Homo sapiens: one gene and its partner. The protein of the gene in region 1 purifies or fractionates together with the protein of each later gene. This does not show direct contact. Each region holds a gene or a part of one and is shown on either strand. Other genes may lie near its edges.

Region 1 (9,862 bases):
TCCTCCTCCAGGAAGTCCTCCCTGACCACCATGCTCTCTCTCTGTACTTGCCATGTTCTTTCTCTCTGCTGCACTGTGGGTCTTTTTCTACAGGGGAAGCTGAGGCCCTCCAGGTACAGATGGGGTTAATACCCACCTCCTACAGGCAATAGGGTATGATGCTGACCAGGGATTTTCAAACAAAGAGCCAAAGAGCTCAGCCAAGGTCCTGCCTCAGCTCTGGAAAGAGTCTTCTGTTACTTCATCCCAACTGCTTGGTGCCATCCTCACACCCACATCTCACCATTTCAGGAGAAGACCGGGAGCCCCCAGCAGTGAGGAGCCCCTTTGTGCCTGGCTCTTCTGGGTGTGTTTTTCTTTTTTCTTTCTTTTTTTTTTTTTTGAGACAGAGTCACACTCTGTCACCCTGGCTGGAGTGCAGGGGTACCATCTCAGCTCACTGCAACCTCTGCCTGCTGGGTTCAAGTGATTCTTCTATTTCTGCCTCCCAAGTAGCTGGGACTATAGGCATGCGCCACCACACCCAGCTAATTTTTTAATTTTTAGTAGAGATGGGGTTTCATCATGTTGGCCAGGCTGGTCTTGAACTCCTGACCTCAGGCGATCTGCCTGCCTCGGCCTCCCAAAGTGTTGGGATTACAGGTGTGAGCCACCGCGCCTGGCCTGGGTGTGTTTTTCATGTGCTACTTCACATCATCCGCATCACCGCCTAGAGGAGTTGCAGCTGCAGATGAAACAGTAGAGCCTCCTAAAAGTGAAGTCGCTTGCTGCGTGTGAAGATGCCTAGCACTGGGCCTGTGACATAGCACTCACTCCCCAGGTGCTGTTGTTTGGGAAAAGCTCTCTCAAACGGTGTTTTTCCTCTGCCCTCCCACCACCACAGCAGCAGTCATCAACACAGGAGGCCTCTGTGACCAAATGTGTGGGGGCTTCTCCCCACCACCAAGCAAGCAATTAATTCTGTAGCAGACACCAGGTGGGTGTCCTCCAATTCAGTTCTAGCACAAGAGTCAGATCCCATGGGTTGAGGGCTCAGTCCCCATGACTGCCTCCTCCTCCAGACACCAGTCGCAAGTCTGGGCCTCCAGAACTTCTGGCCGACCCGCTGCAGGTTGGGGTTCCCACGACCCCCTCTTTGAGTTTGATTAATTTGCTGGAGCAGCTCACAGAACTCAGGGAAACACATTAACTGGTTAATTATAAAGGATATTGCAAAGGATACAGATGAAGAGATGCATAGGGTGAGGTATGGGAGAAGGGACATGGAGCTTCCTTGCCCTTTCTGGACCCACCATCCTCCAAGAAGCTCCATGTGTTCAGCTGTCTGGAAGCTCTCCGAACCCTGTCCTTTTGGGTATTTACGGAGGTTTCCTTACATAAGCATGATGGACAAATGTGATTGCACATAAAACACCTGATCTAAACCCAGCAAGGCCTGTCTGCTTAGACTTTACTTGGCCTTTCCGTGGCATTCCTTCCTCTAGGGTATGGGGCAGGACCCTCTCTGGAATGACCCATGATTAGATTAGAGCCCTGCCTTGGACAGGTGAAAGGAGGACAGGAATAGGTCAGAGAGAAATTTTGTTTCCTGAGGCCTGTTTCTGAGGCCTAAAGTGTCCAACATTATAACATAAGACTGTACAAAGGGTTTTATATATATAAATAAATATGTATTATGTTGTGCAAAAGTAATTGCTGTTTTTGCCATTACTTTAAAAAAATGGCAAAAACTGCAATTACTTTTGCACTAACCAAATATATGTAAATATCACAACTATCTATACCTCTCCCTCTTCTTCTTGAGATTGGGAAGCAGCTCAGGTCTGCTCCTTCTGGTATCGAAACCTCTTTTGGTGGGAAGCTTGGACTTCATCATCTGACCCACATGGATTCAAATCCCACCTCTGTTCCCTAGTAGACTTGCATGGTACACATAAGAGCTGCTATTTCCTGAGTGCTTAAGTATGCTAGGCGTTGTGCTAAGTGGGCTACTACATCAAATCCTCAACAAGCCTATGTGCAGATAGGGAAACAGAGGCTCAGAAAGAGAAGCCACCTGCCCCTGGTCACAAGGTTTGGCAAATTGCAGTCAAGATTTGATCCCAAGTCTGTGATGCCAAAGCCCACTCATTGATCCACCACGTGGTGCTGTGGACAAATCCCTTCACTCCTCAGATCCTCAGTCACATCATCTGTCAAATCGGGAGGAGTACCAGTGGCTGGCAGGTACCCAGGACAGGGTCTGGCATGGTTTGCGCTTGCTTCCTCGCCACTTGCTTGGGCATTTTCCTGGGTTTCTGATGCCTCAGGCTCCTGATGGGGCTCCAAACACTAAGGTTTGGGAGTGAGTGCCAGGGAGAAGCTTGCAATTCCTTTCTGAACCAATAGTGTTCTCAGGTTTATCAGGCAACCAGCTCAGGCCTTTGATGAACTCACTAAGATATATGGACCTCATTACCAACCAAAGGACTCACATGTATTTCAATCCTCACTTCCTCCCCTCTTTCTCATTTCAACTGTTAGTACTGGTTGCAAATCATGGGAAGTTGCTTCATCTAGTCAGTCATACATGTGCCTAGTCCACACATGACTGTGCTTTTGCATGTCACATTCCTGCAGGCAGAGACCTAATTTGGCCGACTTTGGGCAATGACTGAATTCCATTGACATCTGTCAAGTAGGAAAAATAGTGGTGCCTGACTCAGAACGCGTGGCCTGAACGAGGCTCTGTACTTACGCCATTTAGCATTGTGCCCGGCTTGAGTGGATTGGCGGCAACTGTTGTTTTTAAAGGAGATCTCATTGGGCTGGATTATGGCATGCATGGTCCTGCCAGGCCCAGGGCCCACTGTCTGTCCTCTATGGGAAGATAGAGGGGCAGGTGACAGAACACTGAGTAACAATCCGGAGATCTCAGTTCAAACCCCACCTCCATCACCAGTGACCTGCGTGACCCTAATGAAGTCACTCAGCCTTTTGGGGTCTCAGTTTCCTTATCCACAAAGTGGAGATGATTCTATTCCTGATCTTATGGGTTGTTGTGAAGTTCCAATAATATAGCAATCCTGATAACTAGTTTTTGAGGAGGGTCTTTGATGGATGACTGAGCCAGTGGTGGTTGGGGGGTCCTGGGAAGTACTGGGGGAGTTGGCAGTGTAGGGACATCTTGGTATTGGGAGGGGACCTTGGTAGAGGGAGAGGGTGGAGGAGGGAGAATTTCACTAGAGGGAGGGAGCAGTGTGGGGAAGGGCCTGAAGAGAGGGAGGAGGGCAGGTGGGCCTGGGTAGAAGGGAGAGTGGGGCTACCCTCCAGGAGCCCTCCTGGCCAGCAGCCCTGCCTTAGCCTGGGCTAACCAGGCCCTGCTCTCACAGCTGGCTGCACCTTCGAGGAGGCAAGTGACCCAGCAGTGCCCTGCGAGTACAGCCAGGCCCAGTACGATGACTTCCAGTGGGAGCAAGTGCGAATCCACCCTGGCACCCGGGCACCTGCGGACCTGCCCCACGGTAAGTCTACTCTCCATCGCCATTACCCCTTCTTCTCCTTCCAGAGGCACTTCTACCCACCTGCTGTGTGACCTTGGGCACATTACTTAACCTCTCTGGGCCCCATCTACATTTGCATCTTTAATGACATACGTGACACTGAATGTGGCTTTCTCTGGACACTGTCTAATTGTGCATGTCAGCTAGTTTCGTGTGTAAAATGAGTGCAGGCCCTCATGGCTGTGAGCTAAAACTCACTTCCAATTACTCCCCTTGCTGCCTAGCTCAGGATCCAAACCACTCCCACTCTCAGTTCTTCCTAAATCCTCCATCTTTGAGAGGCTCTCTTCAGAGATTCTTTTCTCCCAAAGAGCCCCTGAATCCTGGTCTCTCCAGGACTTGAAGATGCTGAAAGAGCAGTAACACTGGGACTAGATGTGTATAAAACCTTCCTTCCTCTGCCCTCTTCCTCCTGGAAGTCCCAGATTCTTCTCGACTTCTACCTTGCTGTGTTCCTATTTCAAGATGGGGCACCTTTGTCATCCTGAGCTCTGGACTGGGAGTCAGGAGACTAATAATATGGATTCTAGTACTGACTTCCTGCTTTCATCATGGCCCCTAGAACACTCATTCCAGAGTCACGAAGACCTGGGCTCAAACCCTGTCTCCAGTCACTTTACCAGCAGTGTCACTTAACGTATCTGAGCCTCCATTGTCTTCACTGTAAAATGAGGCAAACAGGACTCCATTTCAGAGGGTCATGAGATGATGCATATAAAGTACAGAGCACAGGGGTGGCATGCAGGGGTCAGTTATTTAATTGCTATGGTTGAGGGTCTTTGGGGGCCCTGATTACTAGTACTGCTCTTCACTGGATGCAGGATCAACTGGGAATTAAAAAAGAATGAGACAAATAAAGGCCAAATTGTCAACTTTATTACTGATAAGGGCTGTGTCAGAGGACAAATCAAATGGGCTTTCCGAGTGAATCCTGAAATTCCACAGCCTGAAGCCCACTCCCTTTGCCCCATCACACTAGTGCCCAGGGTGTTTACTGCCTAGCTCACGTCATGGCTGAGATTGCATCTGTTGTCAGGGAGGGGCAGCAAAGATTCTCAGTGGTGGGGCCAGGACTTGAAGCCACTAGGAGAGAAGACCTTCATGACCTGGCACAGGCGCCTCCTGCGGACTCTCATGGCTTGCCCCGCCTCCCCTTCTGTGCATTTGCTCACACTGTGCCCTTCCTGGGGCACTTATCTCTGCCTCTGCAGGTGTTAGTGGGTATCACAGTTTGCCTTCTCTGAAAATAATCTGTAAAGGTACCCACCATGGCAGGGACCTCGTGTGGGCCTCTCCATATTCCCAGGGCCCAGCCTCAGTCTGATACATGGTTGGCAGTCAGGTACAAGGCAGCTGATTGGAATTCACCTCTTATAGTACTGACCACCCTGAGTGCACACTGCCTCTCTTGTCACGTGCAAGCAGAGACATACCCAGTGAGAAAGGGGAGAGGGGAATTTAGCAATTAGTGTGAGCCTTGTGCTAGGTCTTGAGGATGTGGTGGTGAGCCAGATGGACAGTCTTTGTCCTCCTGGTTCTCACATTCTAGGAATGGGAGCTGGTGGTGGAGGGAGAAGAAAGGAGGGAGATTCACACTCAGAGATGGAGAGAGGAGAAGGAAGAGCGACAGGGACAAAGGGAGTAAATGAAAGAGAAGGGGAGGGATGTAGTGAGCCGAGGAGGAGGCAGAGGGAGCAGGAGGAGGAGGAAAGAACAAAGTGTCAGATTGGAAGAGGGAGAAAGATGCACACAGCTGCTCGCAGGGAGAGGAGAGAGAAGTAGCATGAGTGGGCCAAGAGGGAGTGTGTTGGGGGTTGAGAAGTGCCCCTTCCTGGGTGGGGATGGGGACTTGAGTTTAGTTTACTACTGCCCTGCTGGGACTGATCCAGGAGCCGCCTCCATAGGGCTTCTAGCTTACAGAGATGAATGAGATCGCCTCCAGCAGAGTCCCTGGGGAGCCCTCCTGGAGCGGGGATCTGAGTGAGCTTGTGTTGGCTGGCAGCCAAGCCCGGGAGGAGGCAGCGCTGGGTGGTTTCGGGTGCCCTTTGGGAAGCCCAAATCCCCCCGCCAGGTCCTGAGCCAGCCTAGTCCACTTCTACTCCACCAGTACCCAGCCTGGGTCTCTGGGGAAGGGACAGGCTGCCTTTCTCCAGGTTGGAAGTCAAGGGGATTTGTATTCCAGGAATTTAGACTCAGGGATGGGGGCTGGAAGGGAAGTTGGAATCCTTTCATTCAATCTCTGTTCTACATATTCATTCAGCTTGCGTCCTGAGGCCTCACAGCCTGGTGGGAGACACACAGGCACTTTAGTAATGACCCAGGGGGCAGGAGAGAAGCCCAGGGTGGGAGGCAGAGGGAGGGCTTTGGAAGGGGTGGCCTTTGAGGGACTGTTGTGTGCCAAGCTCTTGACTCCAGGGATGAATGACCTAGTCCCTGTCTCCAGGGATAGCTCAGAACATGGGGAAAGCTGTGGTTAGGCTGGGCATGGGCATTGTGACCTGTAGATTGTAAGGAGCCATAATTTTTTTTTTCTTTTTGAGACCGAGTCTTGCTCTGTCACCCAGGCTGGAGTGCAGTGGCGTGATCTTGGCTCACTGCAACCTCTGCCTCCCAGGTTCAAGCAATTCTCCTGTTTCAGCCTCCCGAGTAGCTGGGACTACAGGCACATGCTACCACACCCTGCTAATTTTTGTTTTTTTAGTAGAGACAGGGTTTTACCATATTGGTCAGGCTGGTCTCGAACTGCTGACCTCAGGTGATTCACCCACCTCAGCCTCTCAAAGTGTTGGGATTATAGGCGTGAGCCACCGCGCCCAGCCTTTAAATGGTTTTGACAAAGTCAGGTTTGTGTGTTTTTTACTGCTCCAGGTCTCCTGTGGGAAACAGATGCTAGGAAGTGAAGGGACTCACCCAGGGAGGTGGAGCTGGGGCCAGAACTCAGAATCCCTGACTCCTGGTGGGTCCCGTTGCCTGGAGTCCTCCTCAGTGCTCCCCTTGCCCTGGCCCTGTCCCTCCCCTGAGGTCTCCTCATCTCCTGCCTCTTCCTCCTCTCTTTCCAGGCTCCTACTTGATGGTCAACACTTCCCAGCATGCCCCAGGCCAGCGAGCCCATGTCATCTTCCAGAGCCTGAGCGAGAATGATACCCACTGTGTGCAGTTCAGCTACTTCCTGTACAGCCGGGACGGGCACAGCCCGGGCACCCTGGGCGTCTACGTGCGCGTTAATGGGGGCCCCCTGGGCAGTGCTGTGTGGAATATGACTGGATCCCACGGCCGTCAGTGGCACCAGGCTGAGCTGGCTGTCAGCACTTTCTGGCCCAATGAATATCAGGTGGGCTGGGTTCAGTCAGCGGTCAGCCTGTGCCTGGAGGTGGGGCAGATGGATGTCAAATTGAGGTTGGAGTAGATGAGTGGCTGAAGTTAGAATGTGTCTGCATTCAGTATCAGAGGCAACCTGTGGTCAAGGCCAGGGGTCAGTCTGGGGCCAGTCTGGGTTCAGCATCTGAGGTCATTGTTCCTAGGAATAGCCTCTGGCCCAGGTCAAGGGTGAGTTGGAACAGTGCTGACCTGGAAACTCTGTCTGGCTGCTTGAGGGTAACTGTCCAGGATTTGGGTGGAAACTGGCCTCCACCTTGTTCACTATGGGCGCTGGGACCCCACCCCCAACTAGCTGGCTTGGGAGGGAGGGTCAGTGTGAGCTGGGCTGACCTCTGCTAGTTGAGGCAGAGGAGGCTGAGGCCGAGCTGAAAGTGGGCACCTCCCCAGGCAAGGCTGGAGGAATATCAGTATGATAGGGGCCCTCCCGCCTCCCCCAGGTGCTGTTTGAGGCCCTCATCTCCCCAGACCGCAGGGGCTACATGGGCCTAGATGACATCCTGCTTCTCAGCTACCCCTGCGGTGAGTCCCAGCCCACTGGGGGCGCAGGGGTAAGGGGTGTGGGCGGCCGCGGCTCCTGCCTGCAGGGGGTGCAGGCCCAGCTCACGATGCAGCTCTAACCCCGCAGCAAAGGCCCCACACTTCTCCCGCCTGGGCGACGTGGAGGTCAACGCGGGCCAGAACGCGTCGTTCCAGTGCATGGCCGCGGGCAGAGCGGCCGAGGCCGAACGCTTCCTCTTGCAAGTGAGCGGGAGCGGTGATCTTGGCTGGGGGCGGGGTGGGAGGGGGTTGGTGGCTGCTTCTGGCCCTGACTCCCCCCAGATTGCTGAGTCCCTGCTTCATACTCCAGCACTGCGCACAGCGTCCCGGCCCTCCCCTAGCTCTGCTCTGCGCTTTCTTGGGTCCCCCATTCCCCCAGGTTAGAGCGCGGCTCCAGGAACCTATGTCCGCGCGGTGTAGTAGGGACGGCTAAATGGGGCCCGGGTCAGAGCGAGATCGGGACCCCTCGCTCCGAGGCGCCCCTGACCCCCTCACTCTCTTCCCTGCAGCGGCAGAGCGGGGCGCTGGTGCCGGCGGCGGGCGTGCGGCACATCAGCCACCGGCGCTTCCTGGCCACTTTCCCGCTGGCTGCCGTGAGCCGCGCCGAGCAGGACCTGTACCGCTGTGTGTCCCAGGCCCCGCGCGGCGCGGGCGTCTCTAACTTCGCGGAGCTCATCGTCAAGGGTCAGCTGGTGGACGCCGGGGAGCGCCGGGACCTCACCCTCGAGGGGCGGGGCCGGCGACGGGGGCGGGCTCTGCCCGGGGGCGTGGCCGTGGGGGGTGGGGCCGGCAGGGTGTCGCTGGGGCGCTATCTGAAGATGGGCCTGTGGAAATGGCAGTGGCCCAGCCGGGATGAGATCTGATCTAGGGGTCGGGGCTGGCTTCGAGGGGGACGGACAGGGTCAAGGTGAGAGCCTAAAGAGGGGTGGGGTTCTGGCTGTGTGACTTCTGTGTTGATCCTAGCTGGCCTGCGGTCCGCTCCAGGAGGCGAGGATGTGGGGGATTAGGAGGGGCCTGAGAGAGGGGTTGTGGGCTGATGGGCGAGGGCGGGGTCAGCCTTTGGAGCCAGGTGCCCCTTAGGGCCCGGGATTTAGTGGGGGTAGGAGAGCGGGTCTGGTTGAGGGCTTGGTAGCAGCGTGAGAGGCCCTAGGAGGACGGAGAGGGATTTGGGTGTGGTGGAACTCAGAGTTGGGTGCTGGGGTCTCACAGCAGCATCGGTCCGCCTCGCCTCTCCCCCATCTCCTCGCAGAGCCCCCAACTCCCATCGCGCCCCCACAGCTGCTGCGTGCTGGCCCCACCTACCTCATCATCCAGCTCAACACCAACTCCATCATTGGCGACGGGCCGATCGTGCGCAAGGAGATTGAGTACCGCATGGCGCGCGGGCCCTGGGCTGAGGTGCACGCCGTCAGCCTGCAGACCTACAAGCTGTGGCACCTCGACCCCGACACAGAGTATGAGATCAGCGTGCTGCTCACGCGTCCCGGAGACGGCGGCACTGGCCGCCCTGGGCCACCCCTCATCAGCCGCACCAAATGCGCAGGTGGGTGCAGCAGCTACCCCTGGCCTCAGTCTCTGGTGGGCCCAGGGCTATGGAGGGGCGCATTCGAGAGGTAGCGTGGCCTGTGCTTGTAAACCTTTCTAAAACATTGTGATTTTTCCTCAACCCTTGTTATGGTAAAGATAATGATAGCTAATACTTTACTTTGTGTCAGGCACTTAAACATATCTGTGTGTAGACACACACACAAACCCATATTTATAGATTTAAAACTTACAACACTACCACGATGTAGGTGCTCTTGTCGTACCCATTTTAGATGTGACTGAGGTACAGAGATGTTAAGTGACTGGCCCAAGAGCACACAGCTAGTAAGTGGCAGAGATGGGATTGGAACTCTTGACTGGCTGACTCCAGAATCTGTGTTCTTAATTCTACATCTAGATAAAATAAGCAACTAAATACCATCAAATACAAGTATATTATACATTCTAGCTGGTTTCTCTTGTCTGGGTGTTGAGCCTGAGGTCTGCTCTTCCTTGTTAAAAAGGGCAAAGCAGCTGTTGGAGGATGGTACACCTGTGCCAGATGAGGGTCTTTTTTGTTTAATCAGAAGAGAAATTGAGAACACAATAGGTTTTTCTTTTTGTGACTTTAGTATTGTTGTTGTTATTATTTTTCCTTTTGAGACAGAGTTTTGCTCTGTCACCCAGGCTGGAGCACAGTGGCGCGATCTTGGTTCACTGCAACCTCCGCCTCCTGGGTTCAAGTGATTCTTCTCCTGCCTCAGCCTCCCGAGTAGCTGGGATTACAGGCATGCTCCACCATGCCTGGCTAATTTTTGTATTTTTACTGGAGACAGAGTTTCACCAGGTTGGCCAGGCTGGTCACAAACTCCTGACCT
Region 2 (9,862 bases), on another chromosome or scaffold:
CTTCTTCCAGTCTTGTGTCCTTCCCCAATAGGGGAAGTAATTCCCCACCAGCTTTACTTCCCAACCCTCTACCTCTTTCCTTAAGTGAGAATTGTGTGTGCTTTTGTTAGTTGGGGTATGGCAGGGAGGATGGGTAGTAGCTCAATGGGGTACAGACACTTTTTATTGATGCATAATATATGTATATATTTTCAGAGTATGGGCGATATTTTGAAACATTCATATAATGTATAATGATCAAATCTAGATAACCCATCACATCAAACCTAGATAACCCATCACATCAAACATTTATCTCTTTTTTATTTTGGGAGCATTCAAATTCTTCTAGCTGTTTTGAAATATAAGATAGATTATTGTTAATCGTAGTCACCCTACTGAACTACCAAACATTAGGTCTTATTCCTTCTCTCTAACTATATGTTTGTACCATTCATCAGTCTCTCTTCATCCCCCTTCCCAGCTTCTAGTAACCACCAATCCACTCTATCTTATCAATATCGCTTTTTTAAGCTCCTACATGAATGAGAATATGCAATGTATGTCTTTCTGTGCTTGAAGTTTTTCACTTAACATAATGGCCTCCAGTTCCATCCATGTCACTGCGTATGACAAGATTTCATTCTTTTTTATGACTGTGTATATGTACCACATTTTCTTTATCCATTCATCCGTTGATGGATGCTTAGGTTGATTTCATGTTTTAGCCATTGTGAGTAATGCTGCAATAAACCTGAGAGTGCAAGTATCTCTTCAATATAGCAATTTCCTTTCTTTTGGATATGTGCCCAGTAATAGGATAGCTGGATCATATGGTGGTTCTATTTTTAGCTTTTTGAGGAACCTCCATACTGTTTTTCATATTGGCTATACTAATTTACATTCTCACCAACAGCGTACGAGGGTTCCCCTTTCTCCACATCCTCACTAGCGTTTGTTGTTGCCTTTTTGATAAAAGCCATTATAACTGGGGTGAGATAATATCTCAGGGAAGCAGAGTTTTAAGAATTGCTGTATCAGATTTCCCTTTAATCAGAAGGCACCATCTTCTCAGCCATTCTTAGTTTCTTTGAAAAAAAATTGAATATCTGCTTTTCCACTATTACCTGGAATGTGGCTTTTTTTTTTTTTTTTTTTGGCTATGCTTAGCCTGGGATTGGTATATACATTACTAGAGTTAATTAGCATCCCTCGGTCTTTAACTGTTCATGGAAAAAGCCTTAGGCGTAGCATAAGGTCACAGATTGCCCAGTTAATGTGAAGTTACCAAAGTTACCAACTACTTGTTTATATCAGAGCCTTGTGAACATAAATTTTACAGTTTGAAACTGTTATCTTCGGTTGTCCCTTCTGTTCCATTTGAGAAGGGAGCACATTGAAAATCTGCCTTAATAGCAGTAGTTGGAAATATCAGCTGCTAAAAAAGCCAAGGGTGATTCAGAGAAAGTTGGGAAATAGGAGTTTTTGGACTTCATGTATAATCACAGTTCACCTGACAAATAGTCGTTAATAAACCAGCTCTGCCTCCTGAGTTTGTCAGGAGAAACAAATGAAGAGAAAACCCAGAGGAGCTAACCCCTCTTGCTCTGCACCAACTCTTTTTCACCCTAGGTGTACCCTTCAGCCAAGCCAATGATCAAATTCCAATCACCCTATGAGGAACAGTTGGAACAGCAGAGACTGGCAGTGCAGCAGGTGGAGGAGGCCCAGCAGCTGCGGGAACACCAGGAAGCTTTGCACCAGCAGAGGCTGCAGGGGCACTTACTACGGCAGCAGGAACAGCAGCAGCAGCAGGTGGCAAGAGAGATGGCCCTGCAGAGGCAGGCTGAGCTTGAGGAGGGCCGGCCGCAGCACCAGGAGCAGCTCCGGTAGCCTTCCCCTTCCTTAATGAACGAAGACAGCCCCTGCTCCAGTTTTCATACGCAAATTAAAAACAGTTTTGTGCATTTGTGATTCATGAAGTTAAGGGGCTCATATTGCTCAAATAGCCAAGGCAGGACAGCTACTTGAAAATTAAATACCAAATATTTAATTTTAAAAATAATATTTTTTTTCTGCTCAAAAGTGGTAGGTTAGGTCTCCAAATAGCCTTGCAGGCTTTGTGCCAACTTTATTTTATTTTATCTTTAAAAGATATTTTATCTTTTTAAGATACCTTTTGAAAGTGTATCTGGAATTTTTATTATACCTAATTGCATACATAAGAGGTTTTTAAAAATTTTTCATGGCTTCTTAAAAATGTTGAGAAACATTACTTATTACTGTCTTTAAAGATAAATGACCTATGTCAAACTGTGCCTCTGAATTTTGTCCCACTGGATTTATCATGTTTGTGTCTCTTGTAGGCAGCAAGCTCATTATGATGCTATGGATAATGATATCGTTCAGGGAGCAGAGGACCAGGGAATCCAAGGAGAGGAAGGAGGTGGTGAGACTTCCTAGATGATGAATGTTTTAATAAATTACTTGATAACATTGTATATTATCAGTGAGCCAATATTATATAACATCAATGAGCTGTATGCATACCTAAGTGCAAAGGAGGTTTGTGAATCATGTCTTTTTCTTAATCCTCTTAAACAGTACATGCTGGTAGTGAAAAATGCTCAAGATAATCTGTTTCCTCTCTATCATTTTCCCTGTAGTTTAAGCTTTTTATATACTAAATATTTATAATATTTCTGACAAATTATTATAGGATTATTATGCTTTGGGAAACATCTGCATTTTCTCCTTACCTTGGAAGTCCTCACATCATTGCCTTAAAATGTTTTCAAATTAAGTCAATAGTAGCTTTCATTTATGATAAGCACTTAATATGTAATTTATCAAATATTGCTTACTGTTATAATAGAACCAGAATGTAACTTACTGTCTCTCTGGCACCACTAACACTTAGATGTGTATCTTTTTCTAAAAAGTCAGAAAGAAAGTGATTACATACAACCTCCCTCAATAGCCCGTTGTGATATCTTACAGCTCTTACAGTCAAGAAATTGTTTTCCTTATGTCCGCCATGTGGCACTTTAAGCTTTTTTGTTCTCATATCAGTAAGACTAGAGAATGGCTTGTCCTCTTCTCTATGTAGTAAACCCCTTTGTGCACTTGAAGGCTGATGGTAAGTTACCCCGTATCATCATTTTCTCTAGGCTTAGTACACTCCATATACTTAAACTTTCCTCTTCTATCTTACTTGTTTTAAAAAGTGATTTGTTCTTCTCTTTTTGTGCTCATACAATTCTCTTTATCTAAATATTTTTTCAAAAAGCAGCAAGTAAATGTCTGAGTATGAATGTGTGCTGTTTCTGGGCTGTGGCGGTCATCATCATTACTGTGATGACATCAGAAAACATGTGATGGGCTATATTTGTTTCTGAGCTCCACAGATGGGGCAGTTCTTCCTTGCATTTCCTGAAACTATCAATTTCTTCTTTTGGAGCCCAGCTACTTCCTCTGATATTATCAAACATTAGTTGATTTCTTCAGCAGTGTCCAATCAACTGGGCTTTCTTTTATTGAGAGAGTTTTGATTGTTGTTGTTTTCTTGCATATGGGGGAAAAATTACAGCTCCTGTGAAAAATATTTATTTTAGAAGAAAAGTGTCTGACCCATATCATCTCTCTAGACACACAGTCTGTGAAGAGAACATAACCTTATTCAGAAAAGCCAGGACATAGGCCTTATGTTGAGTTAACAGAGGTGGAGGTATTGTAGTCTGTAGAAAAGTCCACTGGTGGCTTTTCTTTGAGTTGAAAGGGAAATCCTGTTTGATTCATTTTGGGCTGATTTTAGTTCCTTTGATTTGCTAGCCTATGAAAGAGACAACCAGCACCAAGATGAAGCAGAAGGAGATCCAGGTAATAGACATGAGCCTCGTGAACAAGGACCCCGAGAAGCCGACCCAGAATCTGAGGCAGATGTAAGTATCCTCTCTTCTGCCCCTGACACATGTAAACTCATAAGGTGGGAAAGAGAGTTGAAAACTTGCCTGATGCCAGCCTTCAGCCCCAGATATTTCTGTTATATCCTCAGCCCAGAAGGAAAATGGCTTGCATAATTATATATGGGCAGTGTTTTTAACTGTAAACCATGGTGTACGTGTATGTGATGAGCTGGTTTAAAAGTTGCTCTGGGGGAAAAAAAAAAACAAAACCAGGATTTTTTTTTTCTGATGACTTTTAGATTAATAAAACTAAAACCTAGAAAAGCAAAACTGAGAGACACTGAAATATGTAGTAACTCTGAAAGCTAGGAGGAATAAAAGGCAAGTGTGGAAGTTGGAGATGGGACCAGAGAAAGGAAACTAACCCTTCCTGAGCATGTTGAGCAGTCTGCTAGAGTGTTAGGTATTTGTGTGACTCTCTGTAATCTCTTAGCAGTCTAGTGACCATTTTAATAAATATATGGATAAGGATATGTGGTCTGAGACATGAAGAGTTGTTCAGGTATGCAATGGTACAGAAAATTTATAATATAAGTAGGTAGACATCTAATAACCAGCATTGTTGTTTGTGTTTACCAAAAAAGACTGAGACCTCTAGTTCAGCTGGGTGGGCTAGATCCTTGGCCCTGCCTACAAGTGAAGCAAGCAAATGTTTAGTGAGTCTGTTCCTGCGTGTATGCGTAGATGATTTTTACAGCTTATTTTAGCTGCCCTGTCATCTCTTGCTAATAGATCAACTACCATGTTTATAACAGTCGGTCTGTGCTATGTCACATGAGCCCTGATTAAAAGGAGGACCCATGTCCTTGCTAATCATCAAGAAAGTCATCCTGCTAGCTACTTAAAGCCCTTTTGCTGGAAACAGCTTTTCCACTTAACTTGCACTGAGATGTGGCAGAACACCTTTCCCTGGCATTCCTTGCATCAAGATTTCTGAAAATATGCTCCAGGGAACCTAGTCCTGAAATATTTTCAGGAAAAGGCTAATACTTGAGAGCAGAAACATATGAGAGAGCAAGAGACTATCCAGGAGAGAGCAAGAAAGCAAGTGTACAAAGGCCTGCAAATGTGCATGGGGTGGGAGGAAGGGCATTTCAGTCACTTGTTTGGGAACTGCTGTAGGCTTTGATTTCTTGACTATATGATCCTTTACTTTCCTGTCATCTGTTTGTTTGTTTTGGGGAACATGCTGGGAAACATTGGCCTTTGTACCATTCTTCCTTTTAATTAGAAATGGTTAATCCCACTTGTTCCTCTCTTTCTGTTTTATTTGAACGTAACAACTGTGCCTGCTAATTCATACCTGTTACGTGGTCGGAGTTGAGCTAGTCAATTTTATGAACGTTTGCAAAAGATATTTGGTACTTTTTTCTGAAAAGAATATGTTACATTTTTCCTGTAATTCCATACAAATTTTTGATAGTGCACTAAAGAAAATCCATATGACAAGAGATTGTGGAGTAATTAGAGTTTAGTGTGAAGGTGGTAATTTGGTAGTCTCTACGTTCCCAAGAATAGTGTCATTTGCACTGGAGTAACATTCATGGCCAGGGATGTGCAGATAATAGATCAGCTGAGATGGCAGTGAACTCTCAAACATGTTCAAGACTCCTAAGTGAATTGAAGTAGAATCTTGTCTGGAGAATACTGATAGAGACCAAATCCTACTCTGTGGCTTTACTGTCTCTTAGAAGCATTTACAGCTTAGTAAGTGTCCTATTGATGACCTGCGAGTGATTGGGGAAGCTCATGACAAGCATCACTGTTCCTCTCCATCTCAGGCTCTAAAATCTAAATCTTTATTAGGATGTGTATTATTTGGAAGGTGCTTTGGGAGCTTAAGTGGAAAATTGAAATAATTCTAAAGTTGATAATATGAAGGGCCTTTGTTGAGCACAGTAATTTGGGAGATGAGTTGGGAGGACATTTTTCATAATATATTGCCCTATTGGGCAGTTGGGTAGCTCAGCCCTTTTTAACTCCCATCCCTCGCCAGTTCAGCATCTCTCTGTTTCATGGGAATGATTGTTAATAAAGAAATTGGATCCATACTAGAAAATGACCATTTCCTTTTGAATTAGCCTTTTTCTTGTCTCCTTTTCGTATCCTTTTTATGGGTCCTTTCTGGTATGGGCCTTCTTTCCCATCAACAACTTTTCACCTGCTGACATGTTAAAAATTGCTTGCACAGGGAAGTTACTATAAAAATCAACATAGCAAAAAGAGTTAATTGCCCATCTAAATCCCCCACCTAAATTAGTATTTTTTTTGTCACTTGGTCCTCTGACTTTTATTAATTATTTTCTTGTTTATTCAGTTCTGTTCACATTACTTGTGTCAGTAGAGTTTTGAGAACTATTTTGAAATCACTTGCAGGAAAGAAGTGCTATTTGAACCTCATTCTGATTCATCAAGCCTCTGACAAGTAAAGCAGGAGTTTTCTCTTTTGACAGTGTGATGCTTGATTCTTGTGAGTCTTGGCAAGGATAGATCTGAACAATTGAGGGAAGGACAATTTCATTTTCTGCCAGTGGGCAGCCTTTTCAAATGAAATTAAACTTGATCCTCAGTTTTGAAGTGATAGTTGCTTTTTATTAAAATTTTACAGAGGGCAGCTGTAGAAGATATAAACCCAGCAGATGACCCTAATAATCAAGGTGAGGATGAATTTGAAGAAGCCGAGCAAGTGAGAGAAGAAAATTTGCCAGATGAAAATGAAGAGCAAAAACAAAGTAATCAAAAGCAAGAGAATACAGAAGTGGAGGAACATTTGGTGGTAAGCAGATGCCACGAGGAAGGGTGGATTTAACTGGGCTATTTTAAGAAACATCTGGTTTATGTAAAAGGTTAGTCATATTCCACATTGACGGAAGGTTTGCCACTTCGGTGGTTTTTAGGCCACTTTATGACATGATATGCCTGTACTCTGAGAGAGAGGGTAACGGACATCCTGGGCTTTGTATTGGGAATGATTACTCATCATTTCCTGGCCACAGACGCTTTGAAAGTGCCCTTTTCATGGTGGCATGCTTGTTCTTTGTCCCAGAGTACTGTGTAAAAGGCATCTCTGATGTACAGTAACATGAACCTGCCCTTTTGTTTCCAACAGATGGCAGGAAATCCAGACCAGCAGGAGGACAATGTTGATGAACAGTACCAGGAAGAGGCAGAAGAGGAGGTAGTAAGGATTGAATCCCAGAGACTGATCAGATTGGTCTGTCACACACACTAACCTTAAACAAACCTCAGCAGTATTGACTTTGACATGCCTTCCACAGAAATGTTCAGAAAAATTTAAGCAGGATAAGAAAGGGTGGTTTAAAGCAAAAATGGATCATGGCACTGGAGACATTTGGTTAGAAGATAACAAAAGCAGGGTAATAGAATCCATCTCTTTGGTTCTCACCTGAAATTTTGAATTAAGAAGGCATTTGGCTTTCCAGGAATGGTGGACTTAGATTTGTGCAATCTTTTGTAAGAATATTTTCTCCTCTCTCCCTCTGCACATTGAGGGAATCTGGACTGCCCCTGTAACTTTCTCTTCAGGCATCTCCCCAGTGCCTACCTCACAGGAATACCCCATAGTGTCTATCGGAATCCACTTAACACCCTCCAAACATTTTTGTAAATTTTACAGTCTCTCCTTCTGGCCTCTTCCTTCTTAAGAATTCAGTATCTTAATTAAATTTAACAATAAAAGAGGAGGAAAAAGATGTAAAGAGCTCAGCTGAATAAAATGCATTTGGATAGAGTTTCTTAATATTTTAGTTTGCTTTTCATTGTAAACTTCGGGCATCTTGTTGTTAATTAGATATAAGTAGCGTTTATTGTGGTGCTGCTTACGGTGTAGTTGATTATTGTGGTGCTGCATGTGGTGTAATTGGTGAATGCTGCTTGTTGTAGCCGTTTTATCACAGCATTCCGCTGCATAAACAACTGCAATATTTAAGAGTCTGATACAAATTAGGCCAAGACCCTGTATTTAGTCTCATTATGGACCAGTAAGTAGTTCCCAAATTAAAACCCTGGTTCAGAGCTGCTTCTCAGCCAGGTGTCTTGCAAATGTGTGGTTTTATCCCTATGGGGAACCCCATGGGAGGATGGACATATGGCAGACTGAACAGACACACCCCATCACTGGAGATCCTGTGCAGAAATCATGAGCTGTGCTCTCACACACACAGTTCCCTCGACTAGGTCTGCTTTCTTGTTCTTACTGATTTTGTAAGCTTTTCAGAGCTGATGATAAAATTTGTGCTTATACCAGGAAAACAGAAAAGGATGTTGCTCTTTAAGGTCACTGGCAACATTTCTAATAACATGCACTTTAACTGGCTTGATCTTTTTGTTCTTTGGTTTCTCATCCTAATCAAGACCCTTGGCTGTCTTGTCAGAAAGAGAGCAGCAGAGAAAATAGTGACCTTGAATATTAAGACATTGGGCAAGAAAAAGATATTCATCCAGGCTTCTCATATAACAGGATGTCTAGACTAATACCACTTTGTTTTATTATGTCCAATACTAGGAATCTTTGAGGGATTAAAAGAGAAAAGTTCACCTTGGCTTCTTTTTTAAAAATTCAGAAGATTAAACATAAAATTTTAACCAGTGTTTACTGATTCCTTTTCAATTTTATATTATGATCAGTTAAGGTACAGGAGAGAAATCCTGAGATCCAAGAGGAATCAAGAGTAGAAAGAGAAGAAAGAGGCAAGAGGAAAGGAGAAATGGTGCTAAGACAGAGGAGGTTGCCCTGGCTGAGTGCTGCCTAAACTCAGCAACTGCTCCTCATCCCACCAGTCATCCCCTTCAGATCTGCTGGACTGACAGGACTCTTCCTCTTGCTGCACCTGGCCCCAGGTCCTAATTCGGTTTACCTGGTTCCCTGCCAAAAATTCTTAAAGCAGTGTTCAGGCCTCCTCCAGCATGTGCTCCAGGTTACCACCCCATCACTGAGAACTGTTGCTCCATGTGCTCTTAGTGGAAGTCCCACGTGCCTTTTTTTCTTCCCAGTGTAAACTTTCCTCTCTGCCCCCGAGTGTCCCTTGTTCATGTTGTGTTGTATTTTTGTGTGTGGTTATGAGATGATTAATGTTTGCATCTTCCCACCTCTGTCCATCGTTCCCAGGTCTTCCCTTGAGAGAGGAGAAGAGTGGTTCCCAAATACCATTTAAGCACTAGTGATAGAGACAAAGTTCTTGTCAGACTATGGCAAAATGAGAAAAATAAAGGGGAACATAGAATATGGAAACACATACTGCATTGTTTATAAGTGCATATGTGTATGAAACCTCATTGGTGGAAGCACTCTGAAAAACCATGAAATGTTGTGGAACTGTGCATTATTGTTGTTGTTGTTTTTTTTTTTTTAATCTCCATTTAACCTTAGAGTCTTGCAGCTGCCCCAGCTAACCACTAGAATGCAAGGCCTGTGGCTGCCATCGCTTCCCTTCCTCTCCAGCGCACAAACTTATTTCTGTCAGCATTTCCTCCTGGGGAAGAATTGCCTCTTGCCTGGGCCACACCTGTTCAGAGGTATAGCCCATCAAACTTACAGACTTGGCCTCTAAGAGGACCCAAAAGAAGTATGATTTTAGGAAATTTATACTACTCTGCCTTCTTTTATCTTAGTGCAGTAGTGTTATCTTTCTAAGACTTACAAGCATTTCTTGTTTCTTGTTTGGGATTGTTTGAATGGAAGGCATGATCCCTTCCTTACGTTGCTTACATTCCAAACGTTTTATCGCCTTGTAAGCAAACAAGACAATTTATGGCATTGCCAAAAAGTGCCGTGTAAGCTTTAAAATTACTTACATGTTCAAAAATATATAGATTAAATGACCAAGAAATCAGAATACTTTAATTTCCCTCAGTGTAACTGAAAACTGATTAATCTGAACATGCAGAAGAGAATAAGT

The links.
Region 2: the proteins of PTPRU (region 1) and GOLIM4 purify together in Homo sapiens (affinity purification with mass spectrometry; 4 studies listed by BioGRID and IntAct, with this or other methods). This does not show direct contact.

Annotation. Positions count from the first base shown.
Region 1 is NC_000001.11:29,251,904-29,261,765, forward strand, and holds part of PTPRU (receptor-type tyrosine-protein phosphatase U isoform 1 precursor), read left to right. Parts: intron 1-3,371; coding exon 3,372-3,503; intron 3,504-6,601; coding exon 6,602-6,873; intron 6,874-7,357; coding exon 7,358-7,439; intron 7,440-7,545; coding exon 7,546-7,661; intron 7,662-7,966; coding exon 7,967-8,141; intron 8,142-8,706; coding exon 8,707-9,000; intron 9,001-9,862.
Region 2 is NC_000003.12:168,021,786-168,031,647, reverse strand, and holds part of GOLIM4 (Golgi integral membrane protein 4), read left to right. Parts: intron 1-1,611; coding exon 1,612-1,868; intron 1,869-2,345; coding exon 2,346-2,425; coding exon of another isoform or gene 2,426-2,428; intron 2,429-3,810; coding exon 3,811-3,920; intron 3,921-6,552; coding exon 6,553-6,720; intron 6,721-7,053; coding exon 7,054-7,122; intron 7,123-9,862. UniProt on the Homo sapiens protein: Plays a role in endosome to Golgi protein trafficking; mediates protein transport along the late endosome-bypass pathway from the early endosome to the Golgi.